Linked DNA regions of Homo sapiens. The protein of the gene in region 2 interacts with the protein of the main gene of each other region in a biochemical or structural test. Each region holds a gene or a part of one and is shown on either strand. Other genes may lie near its edges.

Evidence for each region. The genes of interacting proteins can lie anywhere in the genome.
Region 1: the proteins of UBE2J2 (region 2) and RNF14 form a complex in vitro, tested with the Homo sapiens proteins (one study listed by BioGRID).

Annotation. Positions count from the first base shown.
Region 1 is NC_000005.10:141,979,105-141,982,852, reverse strand, and holds part of RNF14 (E3 ubiquitin-protein ligase RNF14), read right to left. Parts: intron 2,731-3,748; coding exon 2,502-2,730; intron 1-2,501. UniProt on the Homo sapiens protein: E3 ubiquitin-protein ligase that plays a key role in the RNF14-RNF25 translation quality control pathway, a pathway that takes place when a ribosome has stalled during translation, and which promotes ubiquitination and degradation of translation factors on stalled ribosomes.
Region 2 is NC_000001.11:1,260,170-1,263,917, forward strand, and holds part of UBE2J2 (ubiquitin-conjugating enzyme E2 J2), read right to left. Parts: intron 3,218-3,748; coding exon 3,177-3,217; intron 2,222-3,176; exon of another isoform or gene 2,116-2,221; coding exon of another isoform or gene 2,100-2,115; intron 1-2,099. UniProt on the Homo sapiens protein: Catalyzes the covalent attachment of ubiquitin to other proteins. Seems to function in the selective degradation of misfolded membrane proteins from the endoplasmic reticulum (ERAD).

The sequences.
Region 1 (3,748 bases), on a different chromosome or scaffold from region 2:
CACTAAGTCAGCACCATTCACTGTTTGATAATGAAGAGGCCTACCAAATACAAAGGCACTTTTGGCTTAAGGGCAAAGACTACCTCTTCAATTCTGTGTAAAAAAAAAAAATCAGTGAATAAAACTTAGCACCCAAGTCTCACCCCGTACTATGCTTTGCTACAGGTGCTGAAAAGTTTTCCCTCGATACTCTTCAATCTGGCTTCTACTGCTCTATCATTTAACTGAAATGGAACAGGTAACCAATCCCAAAGGTTTTACTTGCAGACAAAAGGCTTTTGTTCACAGTTGTATTACCTTAATTTTTCAATACAATTAATTAAAGAGTTTTCTCAACAATGTTCTAGTTATTTTATCAGTTTACTTTCCTCACATTATTTGGAAGTCTATCTCCCTTTTAAAGCAAAAGACATCTTCTGGTATAGAATCCTATATCCTATCTCCACTCTTTGCTTTCACCTGTGAATTCTTTCTCTGTGTAGTACATTCCCACAGCTTCATCACCTCTACTTCAATGTAGCAGTGAAGCAATGTAAATCTCATCCCTCTAATAATTCAATGCATTTTTGTGTTCCTAGGCATCTTAAGGACAAAGGTTATATTGCTTTAGTCTTCCCAAAATAATAAAATTGTATTTCATATTTTATATAATATATACATACAAAGAGAGGGAGAGATTCCTAATTTTGCTAAAGCCCTGAATCTATCTTCAATTTCTTCCCTGAATGCTGTGAAACACTTGAAATGTACTGTTGACTTTTAATGAAAAGGTTACAGAAGTCTAAAGTAAAGGCTTATATTATACATTGCTAAGTTCTCCATTCCATCTGGCCTTACCTTCTGCAAGGTGCTGCCTGAGGCAACTGAAATTATCTACCCACTCTTTCCTCTCATGGTACTTTCTTGGAAATAATGACAGTCTGCTAACATTAGCAAGTAATAACTACAATAATAATAGCATTAATAATTACTATTTTTCTTTTTCCTCTTTTTTTTTTTTTGAGACAGGGTCCCACTCTGTCCCCCAGGCTGGAGTGCAGTGGTGCAATCTGGCTCACTGCAGCCTCTACCTCCCAGTTTCAAGCGATCCTCCCGCCTCAGCAACCTGAGTGGCTGAGACTACAGATGTGCACCACCACACCTCGTTAATTTTTGTATTTTTTTGTAGACACGGGGTTTTGCCATAGTGTCAAACTCTTGGACTCAAGCAATCCGCCCACCTTGGCCTCCCAAAGTGCTGAGATTACAGAGGTGAGCCACTATGCCCAGCCCCATTCTGCATTTTACATGTATTAGCCCACTGTTTCTCAAACTATTTATGGTAAAGGCCCAGTTTATTTTTTCTCTGATACGTCAAAGATCAACACTTTTATAAGATATAACCAGGTTTGCTTGATTTAATTTTTTTAGAAGCAGAGTCTCACTACGTTGCCCAAGCTAGTCTCAACTGAGGCTCAAAAGATCCTCCTGCTGTAGCCTTCTGAATAGCTAGAACTACAGGTGTGCACCACCACAGTCAGCTAACAATCAATTATTAGAAAAATGAAAAAAAGTCTAAATTTTTATTAGATTTGACATAAAATTATGTGAAATCACTATAAAAGTTTCTAACCCTCTCAATTTCTATATATTATACACCAGTGTAACAAATATAACAATTTTGAATAGCATGATATTCGTTCCCTTCATCCTTAGAATAACCCCGTGAAGTTATTGTTATCTGCTCTAGCTGCAATTTTGTGAGGTAGCTGTTATCATTATCCCTGTTAGTCTGAAGAAGACTAAGCCACCAAAGTCCAATTAAATCGACGTTAAGGGCCTGATTTATGATTCCTTACGTAGACTGGAAACGGCAAACACATTTCACTCCTGTGTCTACTTCATCAGAGGGTAGCTTTCCGAAGTGCCATGTTGAGGAAGATTCTGAGGCCTCTCTGGGCTCAAGGAGAAAGCATTTGATGACTAGTCAAACACATGTGCCATGGAGACAAGAATGGCAGCTTAGATGCCCTGCATTGGCCATCCAGGATCTACATTATTCCATGTTTGTATATAGAATTTCCTGTGCCATTCCTTCTCCTGGAATGTTCCTCCCTGGTATCTGCACGGTTTTTCTTACCTCCTTCAAGTCCTTACTTAAACCATTTTGCCGGTGAGGCCTCCCCTGTTTTCCCTAACTAAAATCCCAAGTCCCCTCCCCTTCAGAACATTTCATATCCTGTCCTTGCTTTATTTCTTCTGCCTCTTCAGCACTTACCACCACCTAATATCCTTATTTTGTTTTCCTGTCTCCCCTGGTAGAATGTGAGTTCCATGAGGGCAGACATTTTGTCTCTTCTGGTCACTACTACAGCCCCAAGGCCTGAGATAGTCACTGACACAGAAATATCTGCTAAATGAATACTTCCAAATTGAAGAATGAAGTCATAAGGCCCTGGTAGTAGAGTGAAATGTGAGGGAGAGACTGGGGATGGGGGTTTGGGTTCACAGTTAAAACATACCTGCAGTCACCTTACATGGGGAGACCCCATGGTAGGTCAACCTGCACAAAGTACAGAAGGCAAAATTGCAGCTGGAGCAGATACCCATGGTGCAGCCAGGTTCCTGCATCACAGGCAGCTGGCAGCACGGCCGGGGGCAGTACACCACATCTGCCATCAGGTCCAAGGAGGACTGGAGGAGAAGGCGGTCATAACGGGCAAATAACTCTGCTTCCACTAACTCTTTGACCTGGAGGGAAATACAAAACACCATAGGTTTGATGATTCCACAACCAGTTCTGAACCTGAGGCGATTCTTAGGATGCTAGTGTAAACCAGATGGGCACATAAATTAAAACCTCTCTTTCACTTCAAAATCAAACCAAGTACATTTTGACTGAGATGACAATTATAGGGGTCTACACATTTGTTAAAACTAAGCAAAGTGTCCAATTTATTTTATATTTTAGTTTTATTTCTTTAGAGATGGGGTCTTACTCTGTCGTACAGACTGGAGTGCAGTGGTGCAATCATAGCTCACTGCAGCCTTGAACTCCTGGGCTCAAATGATTCTCTACCTCAGCTTCCCAAGTAGCTAGGGCAACAGGCACTTGCCATCATGCCTGATTTTTTTTTTTTAAGACATGGAGTCATGCTATTTTGCACAGGCTGGTTTTAAACCCCTAGCCTCAAGCGATCCTCCTATCTTGGCCTCCCAAAGTGCTGGGATTATAGGTGTAAGCTACCATGCTAGCCTTGTATGATTTAAATGTGTAGTTTATTTTAAGTAAAATTATGCTTTAATAAGAAAACAAAAAACTGGCCAGGAGCAGTGGCTCACGCCTGTAATCCCAACACTTTGGGAGGCCAAAGCGGGAGGATCACTTGAGGTCAGGAGTTCAAGACCAGCCTGGCCAACGTGGTGAAACCCCGTCTCTACTAAAAATACAAAAAAAATTAGCCGGGCATGGTGGCGGGTGCCTGTAATCCCAGCTACTTGGGAGGCTGAGGCAGGAAATCACTTGAACCTTGGAGGCAGAGGTTGCCGTGAGCTGAGATCATGCCCCTGCACTCCATCCTGGGTGACACAGCAAGACTCCATCTCAAACAAAACAACAACAACAACAACAACAACAACACCACCACCACCTAAGTAGGCTGTACTTCTGCTGAAGTCTATAAAAAAGTTGGTTAATCATTCTAAGAGACGTCCCCTTCAGATGCCAACCTCACACAAGAATAAGCTAGTGATTCCCCAAGGTTTATGG
Region 2 (3,748 bases):
TGTCACCCATCCTGGCGTGCGGCCACATCCACCAGGGAGAGGCGAAGCCCAGGAATGACACCCAGAAGACACAAGAGATCATAAGGAAAGGCCAAACTGGAAAGTGAGTGAAAGAAACAGGCTTGCTTAAAAGAGGAAGCGGGAACAGCCAAAGCGAGGCTGGAACGATGTTTAGCTCGGTGCTAATGGGCAAGAGTGACTTACACGGCAGGAAACAGCCAGTTGAGCGCAGAGGGTGCTGGGAGATGGACACCCTGCTGCCTCACTGCGTGCGCACACCTGTCGGGATGGGAGACGGGCGCCCTGCTGCCTCACTGCGCGCACACCTATCGGGAAGCCCCAGACGGCTATCCCACTGCTTGTCACCCGCCAGAGAAACCCAAGACAAAGGCACCAAGAGCCACACACACACAGACGTTCACAGCACCAGATGAAAATCAGGAAGCACCCACTTGTCCTGAAGTGGGTCCCTGGCAGCTTGAACATCCCCACACCCCAGGCCATCTGCTGAAAAGCCTGAGGCAAAGGCCTAGCTGGCTACTCTGCCCCATGGCCTGTCCCTCCTCTACCACTGCCTGACCCTCATCACTGGGGTAAGTCTTGAAACCACAGACTCCACTTCATTCTTTAGAAAAATGGTTTTAACTGTTCTAGGTCCTTTGCCTTTGCATGTAGCTTGTGTAGTATAAAAAACTGAGATTTTGTTAGGACTGTGTGAAATCTACAGATTCACTCAAGGGGAATGATTTAGCAACATTTGTAGGAAGCCAGCTCTGAACTGTCAGAGTGGGCACGCCTGGGCAGCACCAGGGGCAGAACAGCCACGGAACCCAGTGCACGGAGGGGACGCAGCTAATGCACAGGCAGGAAAAGGGGTCAGAAATCCCGAAGTCAGGAAGGAAGCTGTCGTCAGCAGCATCAGATACCAGAGGCTAAGAAACTGAGGACTGAGAACAGCCCCTCGGCAAGTGGCAATTCGGAGGGGTTCCCTGGAGACCCTGAAGGAGAGCAGAGGGCAGGGCTGCAGAGAGCAAAAGGCATCCCCCAGTGAGGGGGAGGTCCGCGGGGACGGGAGCAGCAGTGCCATAGAGGGAAATGGGAGGGGCAGTAGGAACACACATTCTCTCTCTGAAGGGAGGCTTTCCTGAGACCCAGGACCAGCACAGAGCCACACACGGTTGTGGGGAACAACGGAAGCGATGGGAGGGGACCAAGATAAAAGCACAAGTGACAGGGTTGGGGCTGGCAACGGCCGCACCACACCCAGGGGCTGCCCCCTCTTCTCCCAACTGTGTCCAGCCCTGTTGGGGGAGCAGCTCATCTCCACCAGCAACTGACCTAGCTGGTGAAGTTGAGGGAGACTGGGTGTGGATACAGAATTAATATTCACTATTTATTTTTAAAAAACTAAAACCACAAAACAAACAAAAAAAATGTAAAGCTGGCATAATTTTGCTTGTCAAAGACCACCACCCATTTTGGTTTTTTTTTTTTTTTTTGAGATGGAGTTTTGATCTTGTCACCCAGGGTGGAGTGCAGCGATCTCGGCTCACTGCAAGCTCCGCCTCCTGGGTTCAAGCGATTCTCCTGCCTCAGCCTCCTGAGTAGCTGGGACTACAGGGCCCCACCACCACGCCCAGCTAATTTTTTGTATTTTTTTAGTAGAGACAAGGTTTCACCGTATTAGCAAGGATGGTCTGGATCTCCTGACGAGTTTCACTCTTGTCACCCAGGCTGGAATACAACGGCACGACCTCGGCTCACTGCAACCTCCGCCTCCCGGGTTCAAGTGATTCTCCTGCCTCAGCCTCCCGAGTAGCTGGGATTATAGGCATGCACTACCACACCCGGCTAATTTTGTATTTTTAGTAGAGATGGGGTTTCTCCGTGTTGGTCAGGCTGGTCTCGAACTCCTGACCTCAGATGATCCGCCCACCTCAGCCTCCCAAAGTGCTGGAATTACAGGCGTGAGCCACCGCGCCCGGCCGACCACTACTCACTCGGTGGTATATATTCTTCAGATCAGCTGAAGGCACACACACGCATCGTAACAAGTACTTTAACACGCCCTGGACACCTGCTCCCGGGCCTTATCTCACCACGGCCTGCTGGCATCCCCAACGCTGGTCATGGGCAATGACACGATGATGGAGGGCCCACCCTACAGATGTACTCCCGCACTCTGGCTGCCCTAGTTGCAGATGATCCAGAACTGGGATTCCTGGGCCAAAGGAGAGTCCACAGGTGTGGCTGTGTTAACTCGGCCAAAATGCCTTCAGGAGAGCCTTTTTCATTCTTACCCACCCACAACCCTCCCGACAGTCCAAAGCAGGGGTTGCAAACCTTCTTCTAGCAGCAGCACTCTCTTCTAGTGAAATCTCATCCAAAGCCTCCACACACAGGCAAACAGAGCCTGCTGCTCCAGCCACCTGAAGCCGGGGCCCTGTGGCTGGACAGCAACTGCTGACCTGGCCCTGCTCTGCCTTGTGCTTGCCGGCGGGACAGTATTCACGGGCACACTGACTACTGACCTGGTCCAGATCGAGGCTGGCGCCAGCCTCCGCCAAAGGCCCCAGAAACTTACTGACAGCTCCAGCATCTTCTCTATAAATGACACTAGGTCTCTAGGTGGTGTCTGCTGACCTGGAGGGGTCAGGCTGCTGGATCAGCCTTGGTAGTCGATGAAGGGCTGAGGTGCTGGACAGGTCCTGCAGCCTACCGAAGCCCCAGGTGCCACCACACAGGGGTACTTCCACTTAGCTCAGAGACCGTCCTGGGGATTGCGAAACCCTGGGGGCGCCCAGCACAGAAGGCACACTGAATAACTGAATATATGTGCCTTTCCTTTGATGATATGCACTGGGTCTTAAGAAATAGTAGAACAGGCCAGCTTCAGTGTTTACCCCGGTCTGGTTTTCTCAGCTATGGCCCTATGGTGTCAGAGGCTGGTGAACACAGACGCTACAGGCGGCCCTGCAGGCTGAGACACATCAGCAGAGCAAACACTTCCAGCGTGTGGAGAAGCAGACGAGGAGGAGTTCCAACTAAGCCAATTTAACTAGCACACATCCAAAGTAGAAAGGCTGCTGTTTGCAAATAAAAGATGTTGAACAGGCAAGGCTGACTGAGAATATAAAAACCGCCTGGTGTTCTTCTCCTAAGCACAGAATCCTTACCTTCATAAGGGGTCATCTCTGGGCCTCGGACGACATAGTGCCTAAGGGAGAGAAGAAAATTACTTGGGATTTGAGGACAGCAAATTCTCCAAAATCTGAATCATTCCAAGCCTGGGGTTTATAGAACCCAGCCAAAATTACATTCACATTCAGGCAGTGAACAAATGAAGGTGAAATGTCACACAGCCACACGGCTTCAAAACCCCCGTCTCTTCTACCGTGGGTGCTTTTAGTCTCTTGTAACAGGATCTTAGAGACTATACTTTATAAGTTTACCATAAAGTACCTTTGTTTCGACAATATAACATGCACGAAGCTCATCTTAATAATAACTGAAATCTTAAATAAATTTTAATTTCACAGTACATTACTAAGATGTACTTGAAGACTGTAATCCCAGCACTTTGGGAGGGCACGGTGGAAGATCGCTTGAGCCCAGGAGCTTGACACCAGCCTAGGCAACATAGCAAGACCCCACCTTTATTTAAAAAAAAAAAGTTAGCCGGGTGTGGTAGTGCATGCCTGCAGCCCGCCTACTCAGGAGGCTGAGGCGGGAGGATCACTTGAGCCCA